7 linked regions of the Homo sapiens genome follow. The protein of the gene in region 4 purifies or fractionates together with the protein of the main gene of each other region. This does not show direct contact. Each region holds a gene or a part of one and is shown on either strand. Other genes may lie near its edges.

What was found.
Region 1: the proteins of IGBP1 (region 4) and PPP4R2 fractionate together in Homo sapiens (co-fractionation; one large-scale study listed by BioGRID). This does not show direct contact.
Region 2: the proteins of IGBP1 (region 4) and SNX12 fractionate together in Homo sapiens (co-fractionation; one large-scale study listed by BioGRID). This does not show direct contact.
Region 3: the proteins of IGBP1 (region 4) and GLO1 fractionate together in Homo sapiens (co-fractionation; one large-scale study listed by BioGRID). This does not show direct contact.
Region 5: the proteins of IGBP1 (region 4) and TES fractionate together in Homo sapiens (co-fractionation; one large-scale study listed by BioGRID). This does not show direct contact.
Region 6: the proteins of IGBP1 (region 4) and STAM fractionate together in Homo sapiens (co-fractionation; one large-scale study listed by BioGRID). This does not show direct contact.
Region 7: the proteins of IGBP1 (region 4) and VPS4B fractionate together in Homo sapiens (co-fractionation; one large-scale study listed by BioGRID). This does not show direct contact.

Annotation. Positions count from the first base shown.
Region 1 is NC_000003.12:72,999,359-73,003,604, forward strand, and holds part of PPP4R2 (serine/threonine-protein phosphatase 4 regulatory subunit 2), read left to right. Parts: intron 1-4,246. UniProt on the Homo sapiens protein: Regulatory subunit of serine/threonine-protein phosphatase 4 (PP4). May regulate the activity of PPP4C at centrosomal microtubule organizing centers.
Region 2 is NC_000023.11:71,061,924-71,065,963, forward strand, and holds part of SNX12 (sorting nexin-12), read right to left. Parts: intron 2,789-4,040; exon of another isoform or gene 2,665-2,788; coding exon of another isoform or gene 2,662-2,664; intron 1,027-2,661; coding exon 931-1,026; intron 45-930; coding exon 1-44. UniProt on the Homo sapiens protein: May be involved in several stages of intracellular trafficking.
Region 3 is NC_000006.12:38,692,799-38,697,044, reverse strand, and holds part of GLO1 (lactoylglutathione lyase), read left to right. Parts: intron 1-4,246. UniProt on the Homo sapiens protein: Catalyzes the conversion of hemimercaptal, formed from methylglyoxal and glutathione, to S-lactoylglutathione. Involved in the regulation of TNF-induced transcriptional activity of NF-kappa-B. Required for normal osteoclastogenesis.
Region 4 is NC_000023.11:70,143,105-70,147,350, forward strand, and holds part of IGBP1 (immunoglobulin-binding protein 1), read left to right. Parts: intron 1-3,528; coding exon 3,529-3,724; intron 3,725-4,246. UniProt on the Homo sapiens protein: Associated to surface IgM-receptor; may be involved in signal transduction.
Region 5 is NC_000007.14:116,208,646-116,213,663, forward strand, and holds the start of TES (testin), read left to right. Parts: upstream 1-1,893; 5' UTR 1,894-2,062; coding exon 2,063-2,089; intron 2,090-5,018. UniProt on the Homo sapiens protein: Scaffold protein that may play a role in cell adhesion, cell spreading and in the reorganization of the actin cytoskeleton. Plays a role in the regulation of cell proliferation. May act as a tumor suppressor. Inhibits tumor cell growth.
Region 6 is NC_000010.11:17,681,991-17,686,236, forward strand, and holds part of STAM (signal transducing adapter molecule 1), read left to right. Parts: intron 1-2,684; coding exon 2,685-2,760; intron 2,761-2,841; coding exon 2,842-2,937; intron 2,938-4,246. UniProt on the Homo sapiens protein: Involved in intracellular signal transduction mediated by cytokines and growth factors. Upon IL-2 and GM-CSL stimulation, it plays a role in signaling leading to DNA synthesis and MYC induction. May also play a role in T-cell development.
Region 7 is NC_000018.10:63,388,289-63,391,821, forward strand, and holds the end of VPS4B (vacuolar protein sorting-associated protein 4B), read right to left. Parts: intron 2,789-3,533; coding exon 2,687-2,788; 3' UTR 902-2,686; downstream 1-901.

The sequences.
Region 1 (4,246 bases), on a different chromosome or scaffold from region 4:
ACCACATGCCATCTTTCAAAAATAAATTAATCCCTAAAACATAAATGCTTAGACTGCCACTATTCCTCTTGAATTGCTAGTCGGCACAGACTTAGCCCTGTCAACAATGTCAAGCCAAATAGCATTTTACTTTTGGCTGTTTTTTGATATACAAGATGATATCAAACTATTTGGAGATGAGTACTTAAAACGTCTTACTCAGTTTATCAGGTTTGTACACACTGCTTTCCCTTTTTGATAAAGTACATTGCCTATAAATGTATAAATAATTGAAAGTTTCTAAAAGATAGCTTTTTAATATCCTGTCTTACTGGAACACCAAGTGGCTGGGGAAGTTATCTGATTTTTTTTGGACAGTTATTTTATCCTGGTAGAAGAGGACTTAAAATTCCCAATCCTCCACCCCATATTCGGTGTTTATGTATTCACTAAGCATGTTTTGTACTGAAATGATTGGTGTAGTTAGATTCTTATATTCAATGGAATTTGGAAAATATTTTTTATTTTATTATGTAAATAGCAGCCAGTGTTTATGCATTTAGCTTTAAGCTTTGATTTCTTTTTATCAACATGGCATATCTTTGATACTGACATTTGCAGAGTTTCTGCTACCTATTTATGGCTAAACTAAGCTTTGTCTAGTATGTGAGATTGTAACGAGAGAATGAAAATGAAAATTTAAAGAACAGCAATTTAGACTTTTCTGATGTTTTAGGATGGGTGGATTGCTTAAGATAAGCATTTCCACCGGATGTGGTGGCTCATGCCTGTATCTCAGCACTTTGGGAAACAGTGGGTCACTTGAGCTCAGGACAAAAAATTTAAGTTACCTGAGTGTGTTGGTACATGCCTATAGTCCCAGCTTCTCCAGAGGCTGAGGCAGAAGGATTGTTGGAATGTGGGAGGTTGAGGCTGCAGTGAGCCATGATGGTTGGTGCCACTGTACTGCAGCCTGAGTGACAGAGTGAGACTCTGTCTCAAAAAAAAATTTCATAGTTGTTTTTATTTTCACTGATGCATTATAGCAAGAAAGCATTAACAGAAGTAGTATGTGAAACTGTTTATGGATCAAAATCAGTGACCCCCCAGGCTGCTTAGTTTTCTTTTCAAAAGACAATTGATTTGACACTTGCTTTTAGCTTTAGAGAGGTTTTAGAATTGTAAGTATAGGCTTTTACAATGGAGGAGGTTGTAGGAAAAATGGAGGAGGCCGTAGGAAAAATTTGAACATTTTTACTTCTTAGTCTATTAAAATTACCTGTAAACATCTGATGTAGGAAGTTAGGAAAGATGCCAAGACATACTAAATTGATGTGAAGAGGGAAACTATATATGTATATAACTAAAATAATTAATCCCCAGGTGAATTGTTTCTGGCCACTTCAAAAAATTGTTTTTATGTTGGAAAGAATACACTCTTCTGAAGGTAATGTAGTTTCTGACATCATGCTAAATATATAGTATGCGCTGAATAAACAGGAACATATGGTGTGTTTCAATCATGAATTTAAACACTTGATGCATTTCAGTCATGGATTTAAAGGTATTTGATGGGTTTGAGTTGCAATTATTATCCTTTTTGACGGTCAAGTTGTCTCCCATTTGGTCAGTGGTAGCCTTTTCCAGTTGGCTCCAGAGTCCTTTTGACGTGACCTTAGTAGTTTTTGATAGTATCCTTATTCTCTGGTATAAGAATATGTTCCAAGCTCATTTCCTGCCCCAGATGTGAATCAGATATTTCTCAAGAAGACCTGCCTTTTAGTGGGAAATGGCATTTCAAGACTACAATCTTGGTGGTAGAGAAGTTTATTATTACTCAGCTACATAAAATACTAAGACTTGCAATTCAGAATGAGGAATACAGCGTTTTAAAAAGTTTTTTTTTTGTTTAGGTAAAATATACTTATATAATTTACTGGCCAGGTGCAGTGATTCATGTCTGTAATCCCAGAACTTTGAGAGGCTGAGGCAGGTGGCCCAGGGTCACTTGAGCCCAGGAGTTCGAGACCAGCCTGGGCAACATGGTGAAACCCGTCTTTACAAAAAATATAAAAAATTAGCCTAACGTGGTGGCATGCGCCTGTAGTCCCAGCTACTCCCAGCTACTTGGGAGGAGGAGGTAGGAGGATCACCTGAGCCTGGGAGGTTGAGGCTGCAGTGAGCCGTGATTGTGCCACAGCACTCCAGTCTGGGCAACAGAGTAAGACCTTGTCTCAAACACACACATGCACACTTGCACACTTATGTAATTTACCATCTTTACCATTTTAGTTTTCTTTCTTCTTTTTTTTTATTTTTTTGAGATGGAGTCTCGCCCTATGCCACACTGGATCGTAGTGGCGCGATCTCGGCTCACTTCATCCCCCACCTCCTGAGTTCAAGCGATTCTCCTGCCTCAGCCTCCTGAGTAGCTGGGACTACAGGCACACACAACTAATTATTGTGTTTTTAGTAGAGACAGGGTTTCACCATGTTGGCCAGGATGATCTCTATCTCTTGACCTCGTGATCCACCTGCCTTGGCCTCCCAAACTGCTGGGATTACAGGCGTGAACCATCGCCCCCGGCCCCATCTTTAGCATTTTAAGTGTACAGTTTGGTGGTAATAAATACATGTATATTCTTTTTTCTCCCCTTTTATCTCTCCTGTTCCTTGCTCAGTCTCTAGTAATCATCAGTCTTTAGACTCTTACCTTTGTGAGATCCACTGTTGTAGCTCCCACATATGTGAAAACGTGATGTTTGTCTTTCTGTGCTTGACTTAACTTCACTTAACATAATGGCCTATAGTTCCATCCATGTTGTTGCAAATGACAGGATCTAATTCTTTTTTATTGCTGAATAATATACCACATTTTCTTTTCCATTGATGGGAACTCAGGTTGGTTCCTTGTTTTAAAAAAATGTATTTTTGAGGCAAGGTCTTGCTGTTGCCCAGGCTTTAGTGCAGCAACTCAGTCATAGCTCACTGCAACCTCAAACTCTTAGGCTCAAGGGATCCTCTTGCCTCAGCCTCCTGAATAGCTAGGACTTACAGATAGGGTACATGCCACGATGCCTGGCTAATTTATAATTTTTTTTGTAGAGACAAAGTCTTGCTATGTTGCCTAGGCTGATCTCCAACTCCTGGCCTTAAGCAATCCTCCCAGAGTGCAAAGATTACAAAGCATGAGCCATTGCACTGAGCTGGTTTCATATTTTGGCTGTTGTGAATAGTGCTGCAGTAAACATGGGAGTGCACAGGGATTTTTCTTTTCTTTTCTTTTCTTTTCTTTTCTTTTTTTTTTTTTTTTTTTTTTTTTGAGACGGAGTCTCGCTCTGTCACCCAGGCTGGAGTGCAGTGGCGCGATCTCGGCTCGCTACAACCTCTGCCTCCTGGGTTCAAGCGATTTTCCTGCCTCAGCCTCGTGAGTAGCTGGGATTACAGGCATGCGCCACCACGCCTGGCTAATTTTTTTGTATTTTTAGTAGAGATGGGGTTTCACTGTGTTAGCCAGGATGGTCTCGATCTCCTGACCTCGTGATCCATCCACCTTGGCCTCCCAAAGTGCTGGGATTACAGGTGTGAACCACTGCGCCTGGCCCAGGGTTTTTATAACTTTTTGCATACCAGGAATCCTGGTTCTCTCAAGAACACAGGCAGGGTATGATAGAATCAGGATGTCTTGTAATTACTGATTGTAACCAACATTACACATCAGAAAGTCTAAAATAATAATGCGAATATTACTGCCACCAATATAATTACTAGGAATGTTAAATTTTTTTTTTTTTACATATTCTCTATTTCTAGCCCCCATTTAAAAGTTTTTCTGTCTCCCTTGTCTGAGCATATTGCTATTACGTAACTTTCCCTTTTGTTTTTTTTTTTTGAGACAGAGTCTCACTCTGTTGCCCAGGCTGGAGTGCAGTGGTGCGATCACAGCTCACCGCAACCTCTGCCTCTTGGGTTCAAGTGATTCTTGTGCCTCAGCCTCCTGAGTAGCTGGGGTTACTGGCACGTGCCACCATTGCCTGGCTAATTTTTGTGTTTTTAGTAGAGACGGGGTTTCGCTGTGTTGAACAGGCTGTTCTCGAACTCCTGGCCTCAAGTGATCCTCCCCCTGCCTTTGCCTCCAAAGGTGCTGGGATTACGGGCATAGTCACTGCCCCGGCTGACTTTCCCTTTTAACTGTCAATCTTAGTTTTACAGTAGGTATATATCTCATGCCTACAACCAGTCCTTATGTCATTGTCATTGTATTCTC
Region 2 (4,040 bases), 920 kb from region 4:
AGCTGCCGCTTCAAGGCTTTCCCAGGCAGTGGTGGTACTACAATCTGCAGGCACACACAAAATTCCAGCCACATGGGAGAGAGACAGAGTGGGAATGAGATGGTAAAGCACCGTGTACCTCATTTCTTATTAGGCATAGGGTCCATCCTGTCCCACAGCCAGCAACTTGCAAGAACTAAGACCATAAGAACAGTCAGGATGGCTCAGGTCAAAAATTAATCCGTTTCTGTGGGAAGACAGGTTTACCACCTCAAAAGAAGGAAATAAACTCCAAATAATCCTCACTTTCCTTAACAAGCCACTACCATTCAAGAATTTAGCTAGGATTTTCCTGACACTAGACTTTCCATTTTTAGCACCTACAGGAATTAAGTTGTACAACTTTACTAGCGACTAAGTGAAGTAATACTTTAAAAAAAAAACTTGTCCTGAACTTACCACTTTCTTTTTTTTTTTTTTTTTTTTTTGAGACAGAGTCTTGCTCTGTCATCCAGGCTGGAGTGCAGTGGCACGATCTCAGCTAACTGCAACCTCTGCCTCCCAGGTTCAAGCAATTCCCATGCCTCAGCCTCCCAAGTAGCTGGGATTACAGGCATCCACCACCACACCTGGCTGATTCTTGTATTTTTAGTACAGGCGGGGTTTCACCATGTTGGCCAGGCTGGTCTTGAACTCCTGACATCAGGTGATCCGCCCGCCTCAGCCTCCCAAAGTGCTGGGATTACAGGCGTGAGCCACTGTGCCCAGCCAGAACTTACCACTTTCAAGTTTCAAAAGGTATCCCCCCGATCTAAAATACTGAGATTTGATGGATAAGAATGTGTTCACCCTCTTCATTCCCTTCAAGACTTTATAGACTGTGGTTGTATGCCCACTCAGCCTATGCAGAGCTCCTCCTCCAAAGATGCCACACAGAGAACAAAGCCATACCTTGCTATCTCTCTCCAGCTCATTTTTCAGCCACTCAAAGTCACTGTAGCGCCGCCGTACGCAGGACTCCTTTAGCTTGAAGATAGGTAGGTTTGTCTACATGGAAGGAAAAATTAAAGAAGAAAGATGGTAATGTTCAGCCTGTGGTAGCCACCTGTCTGAGTAACTTGGACAGGTCCCAATGAAGAAATAGCTCCTATGGATCATGCTCCTATAACCCCTTCAAATCACCACCAGGTAAAAACCAACCCTTACCACATCCAACCTTATCATAGCTGATGATCAGAAGTCCCTTGCTGCTTTGAATTTATCCTACAAGTAGACTTGCAGTAGTATGTAAATATGTACATATAAGAGTTTTCACCAGGCTTGGTGGCTCACGCCTGTAATCCCAGCACTTTTGGAGGCCAAGGCAGGCAGATCACTTGAGGTCAAGAGTTCAAGACCAGCCTGGCCAACATGGTGAAACCCTGTCTCTACTAAAAATACAAAAATTAGCCAGGTGTGGCGGCACACACTTGTAATCTCAGCAACTTGTGAGGCTGAGGCAAAAGGATCACTTGAATCCAGGAGGCGGAGGTTGCAGTGAGCCAAGATCACACCACTGCACTCCATCCTGAGAGACAGAGTGAGATTCTGTCTCAAAAAAAAAAAAAAGAGTTTCACTGCATTTTATTATTTATAATAATAATAAATGTCTATGAATAGACAATAGGTTACAATGAATTATGGTATACCTGTATAGTAGAATATTAAATAACTATGAAAAGAATGTGAAAGCCAGGTGCAGTGGCTCACACCTATAATCCCAGCACTTTGGGATGCCGAGGCAAGGGATCACCTGAGCCCAGGAGTTTGAGAGCAGCCTGGGCAACCATAGCAAGATTCCATCTCTACAAAAAGTAAAAAAGCCAGGTGTAGTGGCAGTGCTCGCTTGTGGTCCCAGCTACTCAGGAGGATCACCTGAGCCCAGGAGGTCAAGGCTATGGTGAACTGTGATTATGCTACTGTAATCTGGCACAGAGACTCTGTCTCTCGAAATAAAAATGAAAGATCTCTATGTGCCAGTATGGAAAGATATTAAGTAGTAAAATCAAGGTATAGAACAGTATATATATATAGCTTGCCTCTATTTGTGTTTTAAAAAGGGATGTATATGTATATATTTATACTGATTAATAAAGTATTTATGAAAATATACTGGTAATGGTGATTGACTTTCGAGAGTAAGAGAAGACAACTGGAATGGGTGGAATAGTCACATTTTTCATTGTACAATTTGAATTTATCATGTGTACATATTACATTTTCCTTTAAAAAGTGAATTTAAATTCCCTGTAAAGAGATAAACACATCCAAGGTATGCCTACCTCTGCTCTTCCTGTCCAAATCCTCTCCATTCTACCAGTGCTCACTCAACTCTCACTTCAAACAAAAAAATTTTCTGACAACAACAACTGGATTTATTGGTTTTCCTCCTCTCTGAACTCTTCTGACAGTTATACTTTAGCATTGCCTGATACACTATTGTTTTATGCATCATGTTTGCCTTGTCTAACTAACTAATCTCATTAAGATCAGAAACTATGACTACTTCTGCATCTTCTAAAATGCAGAATATGCAAGTTACTCAATAAATGCTCAATTGATTAATAGAGACTCTATGTGTCTGTTTATCCTCTCCTCATCTAGAAAATGCATAAGAAATCACCATTACAAAAGTTGGCTTACCATAGCTTGCTCCCTGATATAAATCAGCTCATTCCCACATTTTAAACACTGAGAAGATTCCCAAGGCTCTAGTGGCAACACGAATCCCCTGACAGAAAACCCTGATCTTCACTCCTGTCTACAAGTTCTAAATAGAAATGGCCAACCACATGTATTAATACTGACCATATTTACTGCCAGTCAATTCAGGTGAGAGGATGAATAAAATAAACTAGTTATCTCCTTTCTCCACAACTGCCTCTTGGCAGGAAAAGAGCAACTCGAAACTCCATTAGAGCTTCACACAGAACCCACTACATCATGCTTTGTACTCCTTGACACTGGAAATTGTCTTTTCAGGATCCAGTTCTCAAATAGGCCATCAAAAGCCAAATAACTGGCCAATTGTACATTAAACTCCATCCAGGATCGTCAAGGTCCAAGGAATGTCAATAGGTTGAAATGGAGTGAGATTCATATAAAGTAAGATTACTAAACCATTATTTATTTAAAAGAATAAATAAGGGCTGGATGCGGTGGCTCACGCCTGTAATCCCAGCACTTTGGGAGGCGAGGCAGGCAGATCACTTGAGGTCAGGAGTTCGAGACCAGCCTGGCCAACATGGTGAAACCCTGTCTCTACTAAAAACACAAAAATTAGCCAGGTGCTTGTAATCCCAACTACTCAGGAAGGTGAGGCAGGAGAATCGCTTGAACCCAGGAGGCGGAGGCTGCAGTGAGCCGAGATCATGCCACTGCCCTCCAGCCTGGGTGACAGAGCAAGACTTTGTCTCAAAAAAAAAAAAAAAAAAAGAATAAACAAGGCCAGGCGTGGTGGCTCACACCTGTAATCCCAGCACTTTGGGAGACTGAGGTGGATGGATCACTTGAGGTCAGGAGTTCGAGACCAGCCTGGCCAACATGGCGAAACCCCATCTCTACTAAAAATACAAAAATTAGGCCGGGCATGGTGGCTAACACCTATAATCCCAGCACTTTGGGAGGCCGAGGCAAGCGGATCACTTGAGGTCAGGAGTTCGAGACCAGCCTGGCCAACATGGCGAAACCTGTCTCTACTAAAAATACAAAAATTAGCCAGGCGTGGTGGTACATGCCTGTAATCCCAGCTACTTGGGAGGCTGAGGCAGAAGAATCACTTGAACCCGGGAGGCAGAGGTTGCAGTGAGCCGAGATCATGCCACTGCACTCCAGCCTGGGCTACAAGAGCAAAACTCTATCTCAAAAAAAAAAAAAAAAATTAGCCAGGTGTGGTGGCACCATGCCTTATGCCTGTAGTCCCAGCTACTCCAGAGGCTGAGGCAGGAGAATCGCCTGAACCTGGGAGGCATAGGTTGCAGTGAGCTGAGATCATGCCACTGCACTCCAGCCTGGGTGACAGA
Region 3 (4,246 bases), on a different chromosome or scaffold from region 4:
GCTACTCAGGGGGCTGAGGCAGGAGAATAGCCTGGGAGGCAGAGGTTGCAGTGAGCCGAGATCGTGCCATTGCACTCCAGCCTGGGCAACAGAGTGAGACTCCATCTCAAAAAAAAAAAAAAAAGAAGAAGGCTTTCTGTTGGGGGCAATATAACACTTTTGAAAGTTATTTGAGAGACAAAGTAGATAGTCTCTAAAGGGAATTGGTCTCAGTCTTATTAAGGTCGAAAGACAACATTTTTTAAACCAGAGAAATTTTTTAATTTCTGAAAATATGGCTAATGCAAGTGTGGAACTTCTCCTTTCTGCAGACTGAGGGTAATAAAGGTGCTATGGTCTGAATGTTTGTGTCCCCTCAAAATTCATGTGTTGAAATCCTAATCCCTGAGGCAGGTATTAGGAGGTGGGGCCTTTCAGAAAGTGATTAGGTAGGTCATGAGGACAAAGTCTTCATGATTAGGATTAGCATCCTATAAAAGAGACTGTAAAGAATGATCAAGCCCTTCTGCCATGTGAGGTCACAGTGCAAAGGTACCATCTATGAGGACAGACACTAAATCTCCAAGTGCCTTGATCTTGGACTTCCTAGCCTCCAAACCTGTGAGAAATAAATGTCTGTTGTTTATAAGCCACCCAGTTTATGGAATTTTTGTTACAGCAGCCTAAATGGACTAAGATAAGAGGCAATGGAGATTTTAACTTTAAGATGTAACCTCTTACAAAGCTCTCTAGTAATACTTCTAGAGAAATAAGTATCTTCATCACTAGAAGCAAATTTGAGATTTTGTAGGGAGAAAACACAAAGTCAAACAACGTTTTTATCATTGTTGTAGCTTTTTGACCAGTTTTGATTCATCCTGAAAATAGACATATTGTAACCAAATACACTCATATCCCATTGTGGGAGGCAGTTGTATAAAATTCATTTAGAGACTCTGCTTCTGACAAGATGAAGTAGACATACTTTTCCTTATTCCTCCTGCTAAGTACAACTAAAAACTCTGGACATGATATATAAGACAAACATTGGAAGACTCTGAAAGGTGGTGAGAAGAAGGTAGACTGGCTAGGGACCTTGAGACCCTAGGAACAACAAGGCAATGAGTTTCCTAAGTTTTCTTTTTGCCTCATATTGCCCAGACTTGAAGCTGAAGAAGCTAGTAACCTGGAAATGCTGATGGACACAGACCAAAAAAAAGCCTAATGAAAGCCTGCTCTCTAGCCACAGGACCTGGAAATGGGCAGCATTTCCTGGCAAGAAAGAAAACTTTTAGACAATAACTGCTCTACTCCAACTAAACTCCATAGAGAAAACTGTGGCCTCAGTCCCACCCATGCCAGCAAAAGCTGAGTGGGGAGCCTAGATTTTCACCCAACCAGATGTAATGAGCTGCCCAGCCTTCCCCTGCCAAGGTGATGTGGGGGAAGGCTGGGTAGGGAGCCAGGACTTTCATCCTGCCAGGCTTTCCCCTCTTGCCATATCAATGGAGACACATGAGGAACCTAAAATTCCACCCCAACCCAGCAGTGGAAATATTTAAGATAATTATAAGCGGGAGAAGGTACAGGAATGTAAAGAGAGGTGAGGTTTCTGTACCTTGTTCAAACTAATAAAATGATGTCACCAAATGACTGATAAGTTATGTGTGTGTGTGTATACATATACATGGGTATATGTATATACATATATACATGTATGTCTGTATATATGTGTATGCGTATATGTATATATATGCCATATGTATATACATATATAGTAACACCTAGAGCCACCATTTAAAAAGCTATACAAAGAGATACATGCAAAAACACTACAGATAAATGAAAATTGAATTTTAAAAAGTTCCAGTGACCCAGAGAAAGGCAAAAAGAAGACAGAAAACATTAAAAAAGGAAGAACAAACAGAAAACAAACATGAATAAAATGGCCAACTTAAGCCCTAACATTTCAGTACTTACATTAGATACAAATACATTAAGAGACAATGATTGATAGAATGGATTAAAAAACATGCCCCAGCTGTATGCTGTCTACATGAAACTCACTTCCAATATGATAGAGACAAGGTAAAAGTAAAAGGGTAGAAAAGATAATTCATGCAGATATTCATCAAAAGAAAGCAGGAGTGGCTATCTTGATATCAGATAAAGTAGACTTTGGGGCAAAGAAAATTACCAGACATAAGAAGTACATTATACAGTGATAAAAGAGTTGTGATTGACCAAGATGACACAGTAATCATAAATATATGTTACTAAACAGCAGAGCTAGGGAACACATGAAGCAAAACTGATATAACTGAAAGGAGAAATAGAAAAATCTAAAATTATAGTTGGAGACCTCAACACTGCTCTTTTTTTTTTTGAGATAGGGTGTCACTCCTGTCACCCAGGCTGGAGTGCAGTGGTGCCGTCTCAGCTCACTACAATCTCTGCTTCCCGGGTTCAAGGGCTCCTCCTACCTCAGCCTCCCAAGGAGCTGGGGCTACATGTGTACACTACCACACCCAGCTAATTTTTCTATTTTTTGTAGAAATGGGGTCTCACTATCTTGCCTAGGCTGGTCTTGAACTCTGGGGCTCAAGCAATCCAGCCACCTCGGCCTCCCAAAGTGCTGGGATTACAAGCATGAGCCACCAAGCCCAGCCAACGCTCCTCTTTCAACAATTGATAGAACTAGACAGAAAATTAACAAGGAAACAGAAGAACTCAGCAATACCATCAACAAATAAGATCTAATTAGTATTTATAGAATGTTCTACCGAACAACAACAGAATTCCCCTTTTTTTTTCCAAGTGTCTGTAGAAAATATACCAAAGTAGACCATGCCCTGGGTCCTAAAGCCAACTTCAGCAAATTTAAAAGAATGGAATGATGTATTCTTCAGCAACAGTGGAATTAAACTAGAAATCAGTAGCAGAAACATAATAAGAACATCTTCAAGCACTGGGAAAATAAACAGCACACTTCTAAATAAATAATCCATGGATTACAAAGGAAGTCTTGGGAACTTTTTAAAAATATTTTGAGCTGAGGCCGGGTGCAGTGGCTCACGCCTGTAATCCCAGCACTTTGGGAGGCTGAGGCAGGCGGATCACGAGGTCAGGAGATCGAGACCATCCTGGCTAACATGGTGAAACCCCGTCTCTACTAAAAACACAAAAAATTAGCCAGGCGTGGTGGCGGGCACCTGTAGTCCCAGCTACTCGGGAGGCTGAAGCAGGAGAATGGCGTGAACCCGGGAGGCGGAGCTTGCAGTGAGCCGAGATCGCTCCACTGCACTCCAGCCTGGGTGACAGAGCTAGACTCTGTCTCAAAACAAAACAAAACAAAACAAATATATATATATATATATATAGAGAGAGAGAGAGAGAGAGAGAGAGAGCTGAATGAAAATGAAAAAGGGATCATAGCTAAACAGTGCAAAGGGGGAAATGTATAGCACTGACTGCATACATTATAAAAGAGGAAAAGTCTCAAATTAATAACGTAAGCTTCCTCCTAAGAAACTAGAAAATGAAAAGCAAAGTAAACCCAAAGGAAGCAGAAGGAAGGAATTAGAGAAGCAGAAATTAATGAAATTAAGAACAGAAAATCAGTAAAACAGAGCTGGTTCTTTGAAAAGACCAGTAGAATAGACAAACCTGTAGCAAGACTGACAATGAAAACAAAGAAGCACAAACTACCAATATCAGGAATGAAATAGGGGATACACTACAGACCTTTCTGACATAAGAAAGATAAGGGAATACTAAAAACAACTTTGTATACATAAATTTGACAACTTGAATTGGACCAATTCCTCATCCAATATGAACTAATATGATGAGTCCTATAACTTAAGGCAATTGAATTTATGATTAACAAACTTCCAAAGAAGATTTGTCCAGACCCAGGTGATTTCACTGGAGAATTCTGCCAAATGTAAAAGAAGAATTAACATCAATTATACACAACCCCTTCCAGAAAACTGAAGACGGGAGAACACTTCCCAATTCATTTGATAAAGCTAATATTACCCTGATACCAAAAACAAATGAAGACAGTACAAGAAAACTACAGACCAATATCTCCAATGAATATAAATGTAAAAACCCTTGACAAAATGTTAGTAAACAGAATTCAACAGTATATATAGAAAGAATTATACACCTTAACCAAGTGAGGTTTATATCTAGGATGCAAGCCTGGTTCAGTATACAAAAATCAGTCAGTATAATCCACCATATTAAGAGGGTAAAGAAG
Region 4 (4,246 bases):
GTAGAGGTGGGGTTTCACCGTGTTAGCCAGGATGGTCTCGATCTCCTGACCTTGTGATCCACCCACCTCAGCCTCCCAAAGTGCTGGGATTACAGGCGTGAGCCACTGCGCCCGGCCGAGATGGAGTTTTTCCTTGTTAGGCCGGTCTCGAACTCCCGACCTCAGGCAATCCGCCTGCCTCGGCCTCCCAAAGTGCTGGGATTACAGGCGTGAGCCACCATTCCCGGCCAGTTACAGAGATTTTATGGTGAAGAGGGAAATTGAATTCTACATTGGCTGGCCATCTGGTGAGTGTGATGGTGATAATAGTCTTCACAAAAGATGAACGAAAGGATGGCTGAGCAAGGGTGACCACTCAGCCAAAGTTTGACAATAGTGATTTGTAGTTGACCCATTTGATACAAGTTTCTAATTCCTTAACTCTCTTCAACAGCTTGGGAACAGAGAAAGGAAATGGAAGTTGCCCAGGGTCAGAAGGGTTACAAGGATAGGGGATTCTAGGGTAACAGGGAGTATTTCCATGTAATGGCCCACCATGGAGAATCCATAACAGTGATGAAGGTCTAAGACAGTAGTTTTCCATATGTTCCTTGGAGCCCTAAAATTTCACTGCAATGCCTGGGGGTTGGGGGGGCGGGTGTTGACAGCCCTCCTGATTTAACCAAGGTAAATTTTACTTGTTTATTAATTATGGGAGTTCCGTGGCATCTCTCATTAGAAGAAAAGGTTCTTTTACTAAAACAGTTTTAAAAACACTGGCCCAAATGAACAAGTGTTGAGTTAGAAGTTTAAAAGATGATGAGCAGGCTGGGCGCGGTGGCTCACGCCTGGAACGCACTTTGAGAGGCTAAGGCAGGCAGATCATCTGACGTCAGGAGTTCAAGACCAGCCTGGCCAACATGGCAAAACCCCATCTCTACTAAAAATACAAAAATTAGCTGGGTGTGGTGGTGCACACCTATAATCCCAGCTACTTGGGAGGCTGAGGCAGGAGAATCACTTGAACCCAGGAGGTGGAGGTTGCAGTGAGCTGAAATTGTGCGGCTGCACTCCAGCCTGGGTGACAGAACAAGACTCTATCTCAAAAACAAACAAACAAACAAAGATGATGAGCAAAGTCATAGAAGCTAGGAAGTAGAAGAAAAGGAAGGAGCAGAGTGCAGTAGTTAGGCCTTAAGCATGCAGAGAATGGGAAAAGAAACAAAAGAACCTTATTCAGAGGACTACTAGACTAACCCTGAATTTACCCTGAATTATATCACCCTAAGGTCCTCGTATGTTATTTTTTTCCCGTGACTTAGGTACATCCAGGAAAGAGGGTTGGGGATAGGAGTGAGATTGGAGTTAAACATTCTCAAGTAATATCTCTGATAGCATTCATGAACTAGGAATTGTAGTTCTTTGTAGTGTTTTACTCAAAAAGCTTCTTAGGATGATGATGTGTCAGTTATTCGTAACATTATAGTAAATGTCCACTTGTTAGGTAAAAGGAACAGAAGAGCCTAAACATTTTTATAATAGCCTTTTCAGAACAGTGGTTCTTGACTTTTTTTTTTTTTTTTTTTTTTTTTTTTGAGATGGAGTCTCACTCTGTTGCCAGGCTGGAATGCAGTGGCACGATCTCGGCTCACTGCAACCTCTCACTCCCTGGTTCAAGCGATTTTCCTGCCTCAGCCTCCTGAGTAGCTGGAATTACAGGCGCCTGCCACCACATCCAGCTAATTTTTGTATTTTTAGTAGAGATGGGGTTTCACCATGTTGGCCAGGGTGGTCTTGATCTCCTGACCTCATGATGCACCCACCTCAGCCTCCCAAAGTCCTGGGATTACAGGGCTGAGCCACTGTGCCCGGCCGGTTCTTGACTTTTCATGGGTCATGGACCCCTTGCCCCTTTGACAATTTGATAAAATCTATAAAAATTTCTCAGCCAAAAAAAAAAAGAAGAAAGAAAAAGAAAGCATACAGGTAGAGTTCTGTATAAAATTTGTGGGAGTTCAAGGACCACCCCCACCACACTGAACTCTCTGTGGACTTCAGCTTAAGACCCCCTGATTTGGGTGAAGACCTACTGAGGAACATCTGATTCTGGAGAGTCTAAAGTGGGATTTCAAGCAGAGATATTTCAAGATACGTCTCTTGGAAATCTTGATGTTTTTCCTTGACTTCTCTCTTTCCTTCAGGCTCTTACATCCAATAAATCAACAAATCCTATCTATTTTATATTTTAAATATACCCACATCCCACTATCTCCATCACTACCTTCCTATTTCAGGTCACCATCTCTCACTTGGATTGTGGCAGTATCCTCTTAGTTGCTTTCCCTGCTTATATCCTTGCCTCATAGCCCCCACAGCCCATACTCCACACAACAGCCAGAGTGGCCCATATTTTTAAAAGTGTTTTTATGTCACTCTATTCATGTCATGTATTCAAAAGCCTCCAGTGGCTTTCCCATTCAAAATACCATGATATTTGATATTTGGTTATTGTGACCTACCAGGTTCTACACATTATGGCCCTGGCTATGTCTGACCTCATTTTCTATCACTCTTTTTTATCTCAGCCATACTGGCCACCTTGTTATTTCTCAGCCATGTCAGGCCAGGCACGCTCCCACCTCACAGCCCTCGTATTTGCTTTTATTCCTTAGCATACTCTTCTAGATATTGGCTTAGTTATTTTCCTGAAGTCTTTGTTCACTGTCATCTCTTCAGAGAGTTCTCTTCTGACTACCTTGTATATAATAGCACCGCTACTTTTCCACCATCACTGTATGCATTTGACCTTACTTTTTGCTCTTTCATAGCACTTATCACGACCTAACTCATCTATTTCTTTTTGTCTACTCCCACTGGAATGAATGCTTCATGAGACCAAGGACTTTTATATGCTGCTGTGTCTCCAGCACTGAGAATGGTGCCTGTCACACAATAGGTACTCAGTAGACATTTGTCAGATGACATACTAGAATGCATCCTGAAAAAGAAAGGCAGCCAGGGTGGTTATGAGTCTTCAGATGATAAAAGGATGAGCCAGAAGAGCTGCGAAAGTTTTGCCCAGAAGAAAAAAAGAGTTGATCATTTTTTAGGCTGTTTCACAAGGCATTCCTGCATCAGTGGCAGGTAAATGACCCCTAAGATTCTATGATTTTTTTGAAGGTGTAGTTCCCAAAATGGAAGCATCACAGGAAGCACTGTGTTGCGATACTAAGCACCCACCCTAGTAAAGGCCAGTATAATCAAATGACTAAGGTACTCATCTTCCCTAAAGGACTTGCTGAGATCCGGTTACTTCTGTATTTTTCTGGCTTCAGAAGGTACTCCTCAGCCCCTGCTGGGCCCTAACTTGTCATCTGAGGGAACTGCCTGGTGGCTAATTCTGGGGTATAGAATCTATATCCCTGCCAAGGTGGAAATTGGTATGCTTACTACCCTATCATTTGCAAAGGTAAAATCTTATTGAGGCCTTCTTTTGAAGGAATACCTCTTCATTTGTAAGTTCATGGGTAATGCTTTTCTGTGGAACAGATACAAGCAGAAGAAGGAGTTGGAGCATAGGTTGTCTGCAATGAAATCTGCTGTGGAAAGTGGTCAAGCAGATGATGAGCGTGTTCGTGAATATTATCTTCTTCACCTTCAGAGGTGGATTGATATCAGCTTAGAAGAGATTGAGAGCATTGACCAGGAAATAAAGATCCTGAGAGAAAGAGACTCTTCAAGAGAGGTAAGCCTGGCCAGAGAAATCTACTGCCAGAGATTTGAGTATTCTACAGGAGATCAAATTAAGATCCTTTTAAGTCTCCATAAAATCACTGTTTTTATCAAGATGAGTATAGAAAGGCCGAAGGGTCACTAAGGTAGCTTTCTCTTTAATTTAATGTGTTCCCCAGTGCTTTTTAATCTGTAACACACTTGTAGTCATTTGTAATTTTGTGGTATACCATGGGGGACAGAAATGTCTCTGAAATAAAAATTGGTTTTGGTTGTGGAAAGCTGTGGCTGCTGAGGGAAGGCATAGGGAGTTAAACCTTTAAAATCTGTGCTAACTGGCCACCACGGTGGCTCATGCCTGTAATCCCAGCACTTTGGAATGCCGAGGCGGGTAGATCACTTGAGGCCCGGAGTTTGAGACCAGCCTGGCCAACATGGCGAAACCCCCTCTACTAAAAATAGCCGGGTGTGGTGGTGCGCGTCTGTGATCCCAGCTACTCGGGAGGCTGAGGCAGGAGAATTGCTTGAACCTGGG
Region 5 (5,018 bases), on a different chromosome or scaffold from region 4:
TCAACTACATGTACTCATCAAACCATGCCAGTTCTACCTCCTTAATAACTGTAGCTTAACACCTGAATAACTGAACAAAAACTTACAATTTAACTCTCTTAACACTTATCTACCTCAATTTTATTTTTATAATTTATACATAATCTATAATTATTTTTATATAATTGGCACAGTGATAATTCCAGATAAAACTCACTGAATTTCTATTTCCATCCTTGCCAATGATACACACACACAATGTAATGCTGAGAGGGTTGGGAAGGAAGAATGGGAGAAAGGCAGAAGTTGACAGTTAAAAAAAAAAAGTTTCCAGATGGTTTTCTTAGTGTCATCTCTGCAACCTCATCAAATAAGGGTCCAAAATTTATGTTACAACATTTGTTTGATGCCTTATTTAAATTGCTTTACTGGACATTTTCCATCTGTTAAGCTCTCTGAAAGAAACAAAATTGCCTTGTCATAGCTAGACCTCATGATCCTATACACTTACAACGGGCAGACTTTGCAGGGGCCCACACCTTTCAAGGTGGTTTGGGAAAATGACACAGAAAAGTTTTACATCAGCTGAAAAGAAAAATGCATAACTCATTTTGGTAATTTCAGTTTTAATTCTTAATAGGATAAAGGAAACATGCACATTATAAATCAATGCTCTGTGTTAACAAATAATCAAGTAAGCAGAGTTGCAAGTATTGGCTAAAATGAATTTTGGATATTTTTAGCTACCAAATTTCTCGAGGCAAGGCAGACATACATCTGGACCTGAATATCTGCATTATTAGGGAATTTTTGTTTGTTTGTTTTATATTGTTTTGTTATTTTTAAAAGTAGGTGCCAAATTAGGTCACCTGCTGTCTGGGCAATGTTATTTTTTGCCATAACCACAAATTGAAGAAAATTGACTGCTCTTTTTCCTTAGTCAACATGCTGTGCTTCCAGCCCCAAACATCTTTGAGAAGTTGTTTAGATTCATGAGCAATGCCTCTGTCCCCAACAGGCTAAGACATTAGGCAGGTCCCTGCACCTCTGGAGTCCTCAGTTCCCTGCAAAGTGAGGAAGCTAGACTAAGTAATCGTTAGGCTCCCTTCCAGACCGACCAATCTGATGGTATTAGATGCAATTGCTCCTGAATTAGGGCATGAAATGAATTCAGCTTTGGTGCACCAATGTGATGACTCTGCTTCATCAAAGCCTGAGCACGCGATAGGCCTAGCACCATCTCACACAGAGACAAAGGGCAACCCTCTGCTTCCAAAGGAATGACACAACCTGTTTCTGAAGTGATTCACATCATCTTTACTTTTGAACAACCCAATGCTCAGAAAACAATCTAAGAATCTTCGCTGACTTTAGGGATGTAAGATACGGTTTCTTGACAGTATTTGGGATTGTGGAAAAAAGCAATTGAGGAAAGGGCATCTCCACAACGCAATATTGAATTTAGTGCCCAAGGTCCATCACAGGAATCCCTAACGATCCCTACAATCTCTCTCTCTCTCTTTTTTTTCTCTCTTTACCCTGAAAATAAACTGAGAAGTTAGTATTGGGATAACTATTCCCCTTGACCCAAATAAAAAGTCCTGGGCAAACACAGGTACAAATTGCCAAATGGAAAAAGTTCTTCTCCATCTTCAGCTAGAGGGAGGCTGGGGATCCCAGCTCTTTAGAAGCCGGCCCGTGGACGCCCAGAGAATCCCTTCGGAGACCAGGTCAGGGTCACTGAGCTTGCCCAGCAGGGCGCCGCCTCGGACGCCGCCCCGCCTCTCACCTTGCCAGCGCCGCGCTCGGGCCGCGAAGGTGCGTGCGGCGCTCGGTGATTGGCGGCGGCCCGGAGCTGCCCGGCTGCCATTGGCTGCCCGGCCCCCTTTGTTCCCGGGTCCGGGCCGCAGGCCCGCTGCGGCGGACTGGGCGGCGGAAGTTCGACGGCGCCGGGCGAGTGGCTGTTGAGCGGCGCCGCGGGAGTTCCGCAGGTTTCCCGTGTTCGCAGCGGAGCCGGAGGCCAGCTGAACCCGGCCGTGGGATCCCGGATAGGAGGAGGAGGGGACCCATAGGACGCGTTAACATGGACCTGGAAAACAAAGTGAAGAAGGTAGGGGGGCGCTCGTGGCGGGCGGCGGCTGCTTCACCTGCGCGGGTCGCGCGGCGCGCGGCGGCCGGAGGTGCCGAGGTGGGTGGGGCTCGCGGGCCCCCCGGTGTGAGCCCGGCTCTGGGTCTGCGGTGCCCCGGGCCCAGGGACCTGGCCCCCTGGGTAGAGGAGGTGCTCGGCGGCCCCGCCAGCTCCCCACACTCGGGAGCGACAGAATTGGAAGCGCGAGCGAGGGCGGGCGCGGGACTCTTCTCTCCAGTCTCACGGAATCCCAGTGGTTGTAGGTGTTGGAAACTTTACTTAAGATGTTTCAGCTCTGCCTGTGCCTCCTCAAAAGGAAAGGACGAGCTTAGGGCGAGTGCGGGCGAGACCGTGACACTTCCTGGCTCAGGAAGTTGAATTTCATTAAGCCTTTGTGGTTTGGGGCTCTGCTGTGCTTTGACAGCTCTGATCTCCTCCCTTCCGGCTGGGCTGTCTGGGGCGCTCTAAAATGAGTGTTGATTTAATGCACTGCCTTCGCACCCGTGCTGGTGATAACTTCTAATGTGATTTTTTTTTCGGTCATTCATTACTTGTCTACCGACCGAGGCAGTGCCTCCCTCTTAGGGAATTATCTGTCAAAGAGCGCATTCTCCTTGTTTGGCAGGTAGTCCCAAAGGGCGGTTGTCACCAGCGTCTCAGCGCAGGGAGACATTTTCAGCTTGGCTGCTGCCTCGCAGGCACTGGAACCGACGGCCCTACCTGAGCCACTCCCGGGTTATGCGGAGCCTGGTGTCGCCTGGGAGAAAAGGGTGGGGACCAGACTATGACTCAGAAGGAATGCTGATGTCACATTCGAGTGAATTGCCCTGTGCGAAAGTTCTCCTCGTTCCAGGGGATTTGCTCATGTTTTACTTTGTGGTAAATTTAAGCTAGCTGTCCCTTATCAAATAGAGAAGTTTTGCAGAGAGAGGAAGGGAAAAATACAGAAAACAGTTTTTGTTTTTCTCATACTCATGGTTCCTAATATTTTATCTTCTAAACACAAAGTTTTTGACTTGAGCATTAATTCTATTTTATGCCCAGAACTGGATTTTTGAAAATGGATACAAAATATTGTGTTAGGACTGCAGAGTTTTCGGTTAGGAAGCTATTGACCAATAAAAACTCGAAATGAGAAAACAGTTTTTTTCATTCCTTGCGACTAAAATTCTCAGGCACTCAAAAAGGTATCCAAGAACAGAAAAACATAAATTGTTAATGGTAGCGTGATTGCATTCTATTCTCTTCCCATTTGGTTTCTTTCTTTTTTTCTTTTAAATAACTGTAATATTTTTGGTTAATCTTGCTTGTCATGGGGGAAAAGCGGGGAAAGCATTTTGCCCGCTTAGCTTTCTGTTGATGAATACTACTCTCATTTAGTTTTCAAGTAGGTAAGAGCTACTTAATTTAGTACTTGTCTAAAACTTGGGGGGTCTTGTCCTTGCTTTTAAGTATTTATTTGAAGACAACTTTGCAAAAGTAAACATATTTTGGGCTGCCGAGGATGAACAGGTGAAGCACAGGATTTTTAGGGTAATGACACTATTCTGTATGATACTATAAAATGGCTGATACATGTAATTATACATTAATCAAAATCCATAGAATGTAGAACACCAAGAGTAAACCCTAATGTAAACTATGTATGTTGGGGATAATGATGTGTCAATGTGTTTCATCACTTGTAACAAATGTACTGCACTGATACGGGTTGTTGGTAGTCCGGGAGGCTGCTGGAGACAGGAAGGCATGGGGGAGGTACATGGGAACTTCGAATTTTCTGCTCAATTTTGCTGTGAAGCTAAAAAATGCTTTAAAAATAAAGTCTGTTTAATAGGGGGAGAAAAATCAAAGACATTTTTGAAACTTTTTGAGACAAGGAGTAATTCTGAGGGAAGAAGTTCAAACTTAAAAATTGTATATGCTTGCAAAGGAAAAATCCAGACGTTGTTTATAAACAATTTCCTTAGAGTTTGAAAATGTGGATTATGATAAATAATGCCCTTGACATATGGTGTAATTTTCCTCGTTTATCCCCCACTTTACTTTTAAAAGTTATATTTTCAACCAAGAATCTTAACTTTCTCTAATCCTCCTCTTCTCCGCCTCTACCACCCCAGAAAGAATTCCATAAATTAAAGGTTTTAGAGAGAATCCCATGATATAACAAATCCCTGTTTCACTACGTTGTCTTCACTGATGATTCTTAGAATCCTCAACTGGTAAATTGGAAGCTATTAAAAAACCGCAGAGATGTCCCGTATGACTCCAATTTGTGAGTCCCTTAATAGGCTTGATAGTCTAACAAAAAGTTTCCCAGTACAAAATTTGGAAATCTCAGGAATGTATTTCACAATCTTAGCCATACTCTCAAAAAGAAATTTATGTTCCTTTTAGCAATTGTTTTCTAACACGTCCAAAGAAGGAAATATTACAAGACTATCTGATTTACCAGCAGAGTCCTCACCCTATTTTGGTACCTAGTTTTCAAGTCTCCTTTCTTTTTGACTCAGTTATTCAAGAAAATTTATAGTTTGAATGTACCTTGAGAAAAGGAAGATTAAAAGTTGGAACAAAGATACAACCATTTAAATACAACTAATATGACTTCTGTTTTAAGATGTATGACATTTTTTCCTTCTAAAACTTTTACATTGTTGATTTCATGAGGAATTTCTTCCAGACAGATGAAAAGCATCATTGTTCCACATTAACATTTCATGTAAAAAGAATTAAGGAGGACTGTCTTTATTAAACAGTGATTGAGATAGATGATACTATTATAAAATTCTTGGTTTGTAAAAGGAAAGCTCGTCCACATCAGTTGTACAAATTGGGATTAATTACCAGTTAAAACCCACCATCACAAAGACAAGGGGTTTTTATAATTAGATTTTGCTATATTTTGTTT
Region 6 (4,246 bases), on a different chromosome or scaffold from region 4:
CCTGTCATTTAAATAGATCTGTTTTTACTGACCTGTGATTTATCTACAACAAAGAGCATCCCTTGTATGTGTATGGTTTGATAGTTTGATGAGTTTTGACAAATATATATACCTATATAAGTATCACCCCAACCAAGATAGCATTTAATCACTCCCAAAAGTTCCTTCCACCTTATGCAAGTACTAATATGCATTGTCACTATAGATTAAATTTCCTTTTCTAGAATTTCATAAAATGAAATAGTATTGTCAGTACTCCTGTGTCTAGCACTAAATGTGTTTCTAAGATGAATTCAAATTTTTGTATGTATCAATATTCCTGTTTCTTGGGGAAGAGGTATTACATTGTGTTAATATATTACAATTTATCCATTCATCTGTTGATGGGCATTTGGATTGTATCCAGGTTTTGACTCTGAACAGAGCCTCTGTGAACATTCTTATAAAGAGTACTGGGTAGTATGCTTTCATTTTCATGTCCTTAAGGGAAATTATGGTTCTGTGATTTCATTTGTTGTAAGCCTTAGATATTTGTTATTTGATTTCCAAATATTTGGGTATTTTTATGCTATCATTTTGTTATCAATTTGTAGTTTAATTTTGTTATGGTCAAAGAATGTACTTTGTATGACTTTAGTCCTTTTAAATTTATCAGTGTTTGTTTTATAGGACAGAATGTAGTCCATTTTGTTGAATTTTCCATGCACATGAAAAAAAATGTGTATAATGCCATGGGTGGGTGGATTGTTGTGTAATGCCAGTCAGGTCAAGTTTCATGATAGTGTCATTCAGGTATTCCATATCAGTACTTTTTTTTCTTGTGTTATCAAGTCATTGAGGGGGCATGTTGAAGTTTCCAGTAGATTTGTCTGTGTTTCCTTTCGGCTGTATCGATGTTTCCTTTATATATTTTGAAGTTCTATTTTTGTGTTCATGCACATTTAGAATTATGTTTCCTTGGGGGACTTAACCGTTTTATTATTATGTACTGTCTCTCTTTATCCCTGTTAGTATTCCTTGTTATGAAAACTGCTAACGGTAGTGAATAGATAAAAGTGTAGTTGGATTACAATCTTAATCTGCCATTTTTCTAGATGATTGGTTATGTTTCTTCTGTTTTCTCTTTCTGTCTTTTGTGTATCAATCAAATGGTTTTTATGGTTTTATTTTTTTGATTTAAAACTTTGTTTTGAGACAGGGTCTCACTCTGTCTCTCAGGATGGAGTACGGTGGTGCCATCACAGCTCACTGCATCCTCGACCTCTGGGGCTCAAGTGAACCTCCCACCTCAGGCCATTCACTGCGCCCATAGGAGCTGGGACCATTTCTGGCTAATTTTTGTATTATTTTTTGTAGAGATAGGGTTTCACAGTGTTGCCCAGGCTGGTCCCAAACTTCCGGACTCAAGCCATCTGCCCACCTCGGCCTCCCAAAATGCTGGAATTATAGGTGTGAGCTGCTGCACCCAAGCTATTTTATTTTCATTTTTCTCTTAAAAATATTTGTAGTGGTGGCTCTGTGTTAAATTTTTTCATTTTTTTTCTCTCTGTACTTCAGTTTGGGTACTTTCAGCATATTTTCAAATTTACTGATCTTTCATTCTTACCTGATTAATTCCATCCACTTTTTAATTTTACATATTTTTTTGTCTCTAGACTTTTATCTGGGCCCTTTTTAATATATTTCTTCATCATTATGTGGATGATTTCCAGCATGCTTATAATAGCTTATATAAAGTCCTTGACTGCTAATTTCATCATCTTTGTTATTTCTGCATTCTCAGTTGACTGAATTTTCTGCTAGTTGTGTATGGTAGTTTTCTTCTTCATATCATGTCTTCATATCATTTTATTGAATGCTTAGTACTTTGAATTTTATATTTTTGAGCATCAGGTGTTGTATTCCTGTTAAGGAGTATTGGACTTTATTTTTTCAGAAGTGGTTACATTCGTCTGTGGCTTATGTTGTTAGGCAGTATGTAGGTATGATTGAGCTGCATTGCTAGGGTCTAAACTCCCCTGTATATCCACTGAATCCTCTGGATTTTCAATAGATGCTTCACTGTGGCCTCATCTCTGACGACTGTGTGAGCGTTGGATCTCTTTAGCATATCGCCCTCGGTCACTTTTTGACCAGTTTCATGGAGTTTTTCACCTGTGCATGCGTGGGTTTTTCAGAAGGTCTTCACTGATACTTGGAAAGTGCCTCTAGGCAGAAAGTTGAGGCAAACTTCTGGCTTATCTAATTCATTTTCCTTCTTGGATATTATCATTCAGTACTGCCTGTGGCCTCATGTCTTTAAAAAGTTAACCTCAGTGTGGAAAATCTGTTTTTCCAGTTTTCTAATTGTTTACAACGGGAGTGTAAGTCTGGTCTGTTTTTCCACCCTGGCTGGAAGTGGAAGTCATGGCCTACCATTTTATTTTCAAACCTTTTTTTTTTTCCTACCCAGAATTAGCCTGAAATGCCTCATCTACGATTACTAATAAGAGAGCCTGTTAATTTTGTTTGAAAAATTTAAAGGAACTAGTTTACAGTTTTTCAACCGTGTTATTAATAAAAATTAAATTTCCCTACTTTATCATAGTCTCCCTTTTTATCGTAGTCTTTTGTCTATAACAGTTAAGGGGCAGGGGGAAGCTAGATGTATTATTAAGTAATTTTTACTTTTCTCATTTTTTTAGACCTAAGGATTGTCTTCGGTCTATTATGAGAAGAGTGAACCACAAAGATCCTCACGTTGCTATGCAGGCTTTGACTGTGAGTGGTTTCATTTTAATCTGTACCACGAAATTACCTGCCACAATTGAGCCCCTTTAACTTCTGATTTTGTGCTTTTAGCTTCTAGGAGCATGTGTATCAAACTGTGGCAAAATTTTTCATTTAGAAGTATGTTCAAGAGATTTTGCTAGTGAAGTAAGCAACGTATTAAATAAGGTAAGGAGCATTATTTCCAGAAATTAATTAAGGCAGTCTTCTTTCTTCACATATTTTATTGTTTAAATCTTCACAGAGGACTATTCTGTGCTTTTTAAGAAATCCTTTCTAGGCTGTGTCTATCCAGTATATAAATAAATATTATGTTTTGTTGAAGAGACTGCGGATTCATGTAACTTTGAGTTAGTTTTTTCAAGCCATATTAGAGTGTTTTTAACCTGTTCTTTTCCATCATACTTTCATCTGATAAGAAAACAGGTATTTCTATATCTAATTAAATAATATCAGTCTATTTTACATACTGTTTTTGTAGGCACAAGGTATTTTCCTAATGGAAAACCTTTCAGAAACACTGCAAAAAGTCTATGGCACCGTTGAGTTTTTATCTTTATCAATAAGGCTGCTTCCTGGCCATCACAGGATTTTAATACTATACTGCTATTCTTACTGGCTGAACCCACAGCTGGAGTTGCCTCAAAAGTGGTGGCGGGGGAGTTTCCACAAGGGACTGCCCCAAACTGTTCCAGATAGGGCCAGATGAGAGTCCAAAAAAAGAGGCACTAAATGCCAGGGTGATCAGTCTAAAGGATTTATTAGGGGAACTTACACAGGAGGGCTGCAGTTTATAGGAGGGTTTAAGGAATTTGGCTCAGGGTTGGGGCTGGTTTCTGTGTGTTTAGCAACATACTTGATCTTTTAGTGTTTTGGGCCACAACCTGAACAACTTTATCAGTGCCTGAGAATGTTCAAGGCCCCAGTTTGGGTCCAAACCTATGGTGGAAAACATGCAGCTGGCTAGGTCACAGAGCGGGACAAGGCACTCTGTTTTTCTATTGGGACACAGAAAGAAAGCAGGGAGAACTGGGGACCCTACAACTGCCCACTCAACTGTAGAATTCTAGTCACACAGTTCAAGAAATTTTTCAATTTTCAATTAGTAATATGTGAGTTTCCCCAGTAAAAATTTGTGCATTCTAAAAGTAATTATTTTTGGCCTTTTTAGGGGGAGTACTGTAAATCAAGAAAAAGTTTTTGTATGTTAAAAGGGAAAATGCCTCATGTTTTTGGGAAAAATGAATAGTTCCAGGTTACAGTAGAAAAATAGCAGTATAGAAATATAGTAAGAATGTAAAATTCTGTACTTTTCGAACATCATGGTTAAATGATAATTCTTTCCCTTTCCTGCTTTATGCAGTTAATATTTATTTTCTACTAATTAATAAACATTGTCTTTTAATGTCCTGAATGTCCATCGAGATTACAACTGTTTATGAAGAGATTCTAATACCATGTTTTTTGTAATGTAGGT
Region 7 (3,533 bases), on a different chromosome or scaffold from region 4:
TTTTTTTTCCCCAAGTCTTTACTAAGTACCTAAAAGCACTCAACACTATATTAATTGCTGGGGAAAATGTAACTCTCAGAACTTACAATCTAAATGATCTAAACATGATCAATAGAACATGCTCCAGAGAAAAATCTTAACACAGCAGCAGCAGCAATTTAACTGCTAAAGAAACCCAAAAGTAGGGTGGGGGTAGTTTGGGTGGTCTTCCTGCAAGAGGTTACATGGTTCATCATCATTAGGTTTTAATGGAAATACGTGATGTGGACTAGCAAAAAAAAGAAAGATACCATATTAAAATAAGAGGAGGATACAAATGAAGGGATGAAAGTAGGAAAGAAAAGGGCACCTGTGAAAACTCACAAACTTAAAATAACATTAGTGTCAACAATGGGCACTGTGTTGCTTCACTTGCAACATACAGCACCATCAGGTAGGTATGCCTCTTTATCAACTCTGAAAGTGGCTAAATGGTGCTTCTGTGGCACTAATCAAGTACACTCATTCTGTTTTTCTGCATGTAGTTGACAGTGGACTCAGAAGTCAATTCTCTATTGACATGTTTTATAATTATAGAGTCCTTATAGATTTCTCAGGGTGAGACAAAATGCTTTCAAATATCCAGGGTGTAAGTCATAGAGATGCTTAACAACTATGATCTACTTGCTGGCTCAGAAAATGTCTACCTAAACTTTATAATTACTGGTCAAGAGCCAGAGAAATAGAACATGCCCATTCGGATTCCTTTGAGTATCTGTCCATAAAGAACACACAGCAGTACTGTATAATTCTGAGGCTGATAAACAGGTAAGATGTATAAATTATCTTATCCACAAAGAATTCAGTGTTAGTTTACTAAGTTAGTTCTCAATCCTCACATAAAAGTCATTGAAAAACAGAATTTTCATATATACATTAATAATTTTAATGATTTCTTTGTATCTAACCAATTTAGGTAATATTTTCTTTTACACAGAAGGTCCCAAAATAAAGAATAATACACAGAATACAGTCAATAGGTTATATCAATTTACTTCACATAAGAGCATAATTCAGGCCTTTTCCATTTAATAACAAAAACAATCTGTACAGAAAACCCAAAGGCAACCACATAGCATATGTAAAATGTGCAAATACACTTTAAAATGCAAGTTATTCTATAGCATTTGCAAGATAGAATTTCACTGTAATTAGGGAATCTAGTTCATCCTAACTTAATAGTCTTTTGCATGTATAGACAATGCAATTCTACAAGGCACAACTCAGCGTTGATGCTAAAGTATGAAACACATCCTCAGATTATTTATTTGAAAATATTAAAATAGCATCGTTTATTATTTTTTAATGAGTCATGAGCTCATTTCTAAAGCTTCATAAAGCATTACACTGATAACATATGTGTGGTCAGGACAAACTGTTCCCTGAACTTAAAAGGTGAAGGACAAGACCCCATATTATTATCCTGTATTAAAAAAGGAAATATACATATATGTACACAGACACCCCATATCACAGACAAGAAACTTCCCATAATTCAAAGGGAGACCATTTCCTTATTAGCAAAGGTGCGCATTACAGTATTTCATGACAGTTAAAAATTACACACCTACCACCTGTTTTGGTCAATCTTGCTAAAAAAGACACTGAAATAGACAATTTTCTTCTTTAAGGTAAAGACAATGTCTAATTTAGAAAATCTTCCTCTTGAGATTGCACAGTGAAAGGTATCAGTTAATTAAATATAAAAGCTTACCGTTTTTGTTTTTTTTTGAGACAGAGTTTTATTCAGTCGCCCAGGCTGGAGTGCAATGGCGCTATCTCGGCGCCCAGGCTGGAATGCAGTAGCGCGATCTCAGCTCACTGCAACCTCTGCCTCCCAGGTTCAAGTGATTCTCCCGCCTCAGCCTCCTGAGTAGCTGGGATTACAGACACTCGCCATCATGCCCAGCTAATTTTTGTATTTTTAGTAGAGACGGCATTTCACCATGTTGGCCAGACTGGTCTTGAACTCCTGACCTCAGGTGATCCACCCATCGTAGCCTCCCAAAGTGCTGGGATTACAGGCATAAGCCACCATGCCCAGCCAAAGCTTACGCTTTTAAAGAAATTATTTAAATCTACACAGAAAAAAATATCAACTTATTAAAAACTATTAAGAGCACTGTCTATAATTCAAAATCTTTCAAACCCAATCACAAAGCTCTTTGCTGTTTTATTGCCCATCCCTGAGTAAAGATTCTATCATTTGTAATTTTTTAATAACGTAAATTTTACATTGATAAGAATGATGTTTAACAATTTTTTTGAAAATATAAAATAAACCCTATATCATTTTAGTAAAAAAAAAAGAAAATATAAATGCTCTTTGCAAAGACCACCATTCATAAAAATTGTAAATATTTGTATGTCAATTTCTGACATCCTTTTTACTGGGTAATTTCTGTTTTTATGCCGTTCATATATCGCTCATTTCCTCATAACCTGTTATTTTGTACCTTTTGTTAATAGGAGTATTTAATAAGTAATGGAGGAAAAGTACAATATAAAACCTAATGGAACTCTGAAGTGAGATGTGTATTTCCCTGTGGTAAAAGAGTTTTACTGGAAACAATTAATGCGATCCAAATAGACAAAAATATCTATGAAAGAAAGAATACATATGGTAAGCATCTTCCTTGTCTTTGGCTTAGCCTTCTTGACCAAAATCTTCTGTAAACTTCTTTAATTTCAACAAGTCATGTTCATTGACTGTAGGTTTTGTGTTAGATAGTGACCGCAACATATCCGACTGTCAGGGAAAAAGAAGGGTAGGGAGGATATTAATAATAGAGTTAACAAAATAAAAAACCGTCATATTATCATTATTGCTATGAACTTTAACCTAAGTTTAAATATGAATATTTGCAGTCTGCCATAAGATACTAACGATAAACTCCCTATTCTTTTTTTTTTTTTTTGAGTTGGAGTCTCACTCTGTTGGCTCAGGCTGGAGCGCAGTGGCGTGATCTTGGCTCATTGCAACCTCTGCCTCCCAGGTTCAAGAGATTCTCCTGCCTCAGCCTCCCAAGTAGCTGGGATTACAGGCACCTGAAACCACACCTGGCTAATTTTTGTATTTTTAGTAGAGATGGGGTTTCGTTTTGTTGGTCAGGCTGGTCTCGAACCCCTGACCTCAGGTGATCCGCCTGCCTCTGCCTTGCGAAGTGCTGGGATTACAGGCGTGGGCCCCTGCACCCGGCCCCTATTCTTTCACAGATCTTTCATGATCTTTGATCATGTTATTCCTTTGTGTAGAAACGTATACTTTCTTCCCCTGAACTGATCAAATGGCTCCCCAATACTTATCAGAAGGACAATCCCCTTAGTCTGAGGATCAAGGCCTCCAAAGTATGTTCATGATCTAATTTCTGGCCTTATCTCTTTTTCTTAAACGAGATCAATTTTCCAAGTCAGTATAATTCAAAAGGAAAATATCATTCACTTACACTTAAGTGAAGCAGAATACCATTCTATGAAAAATCTACTAACCAGAA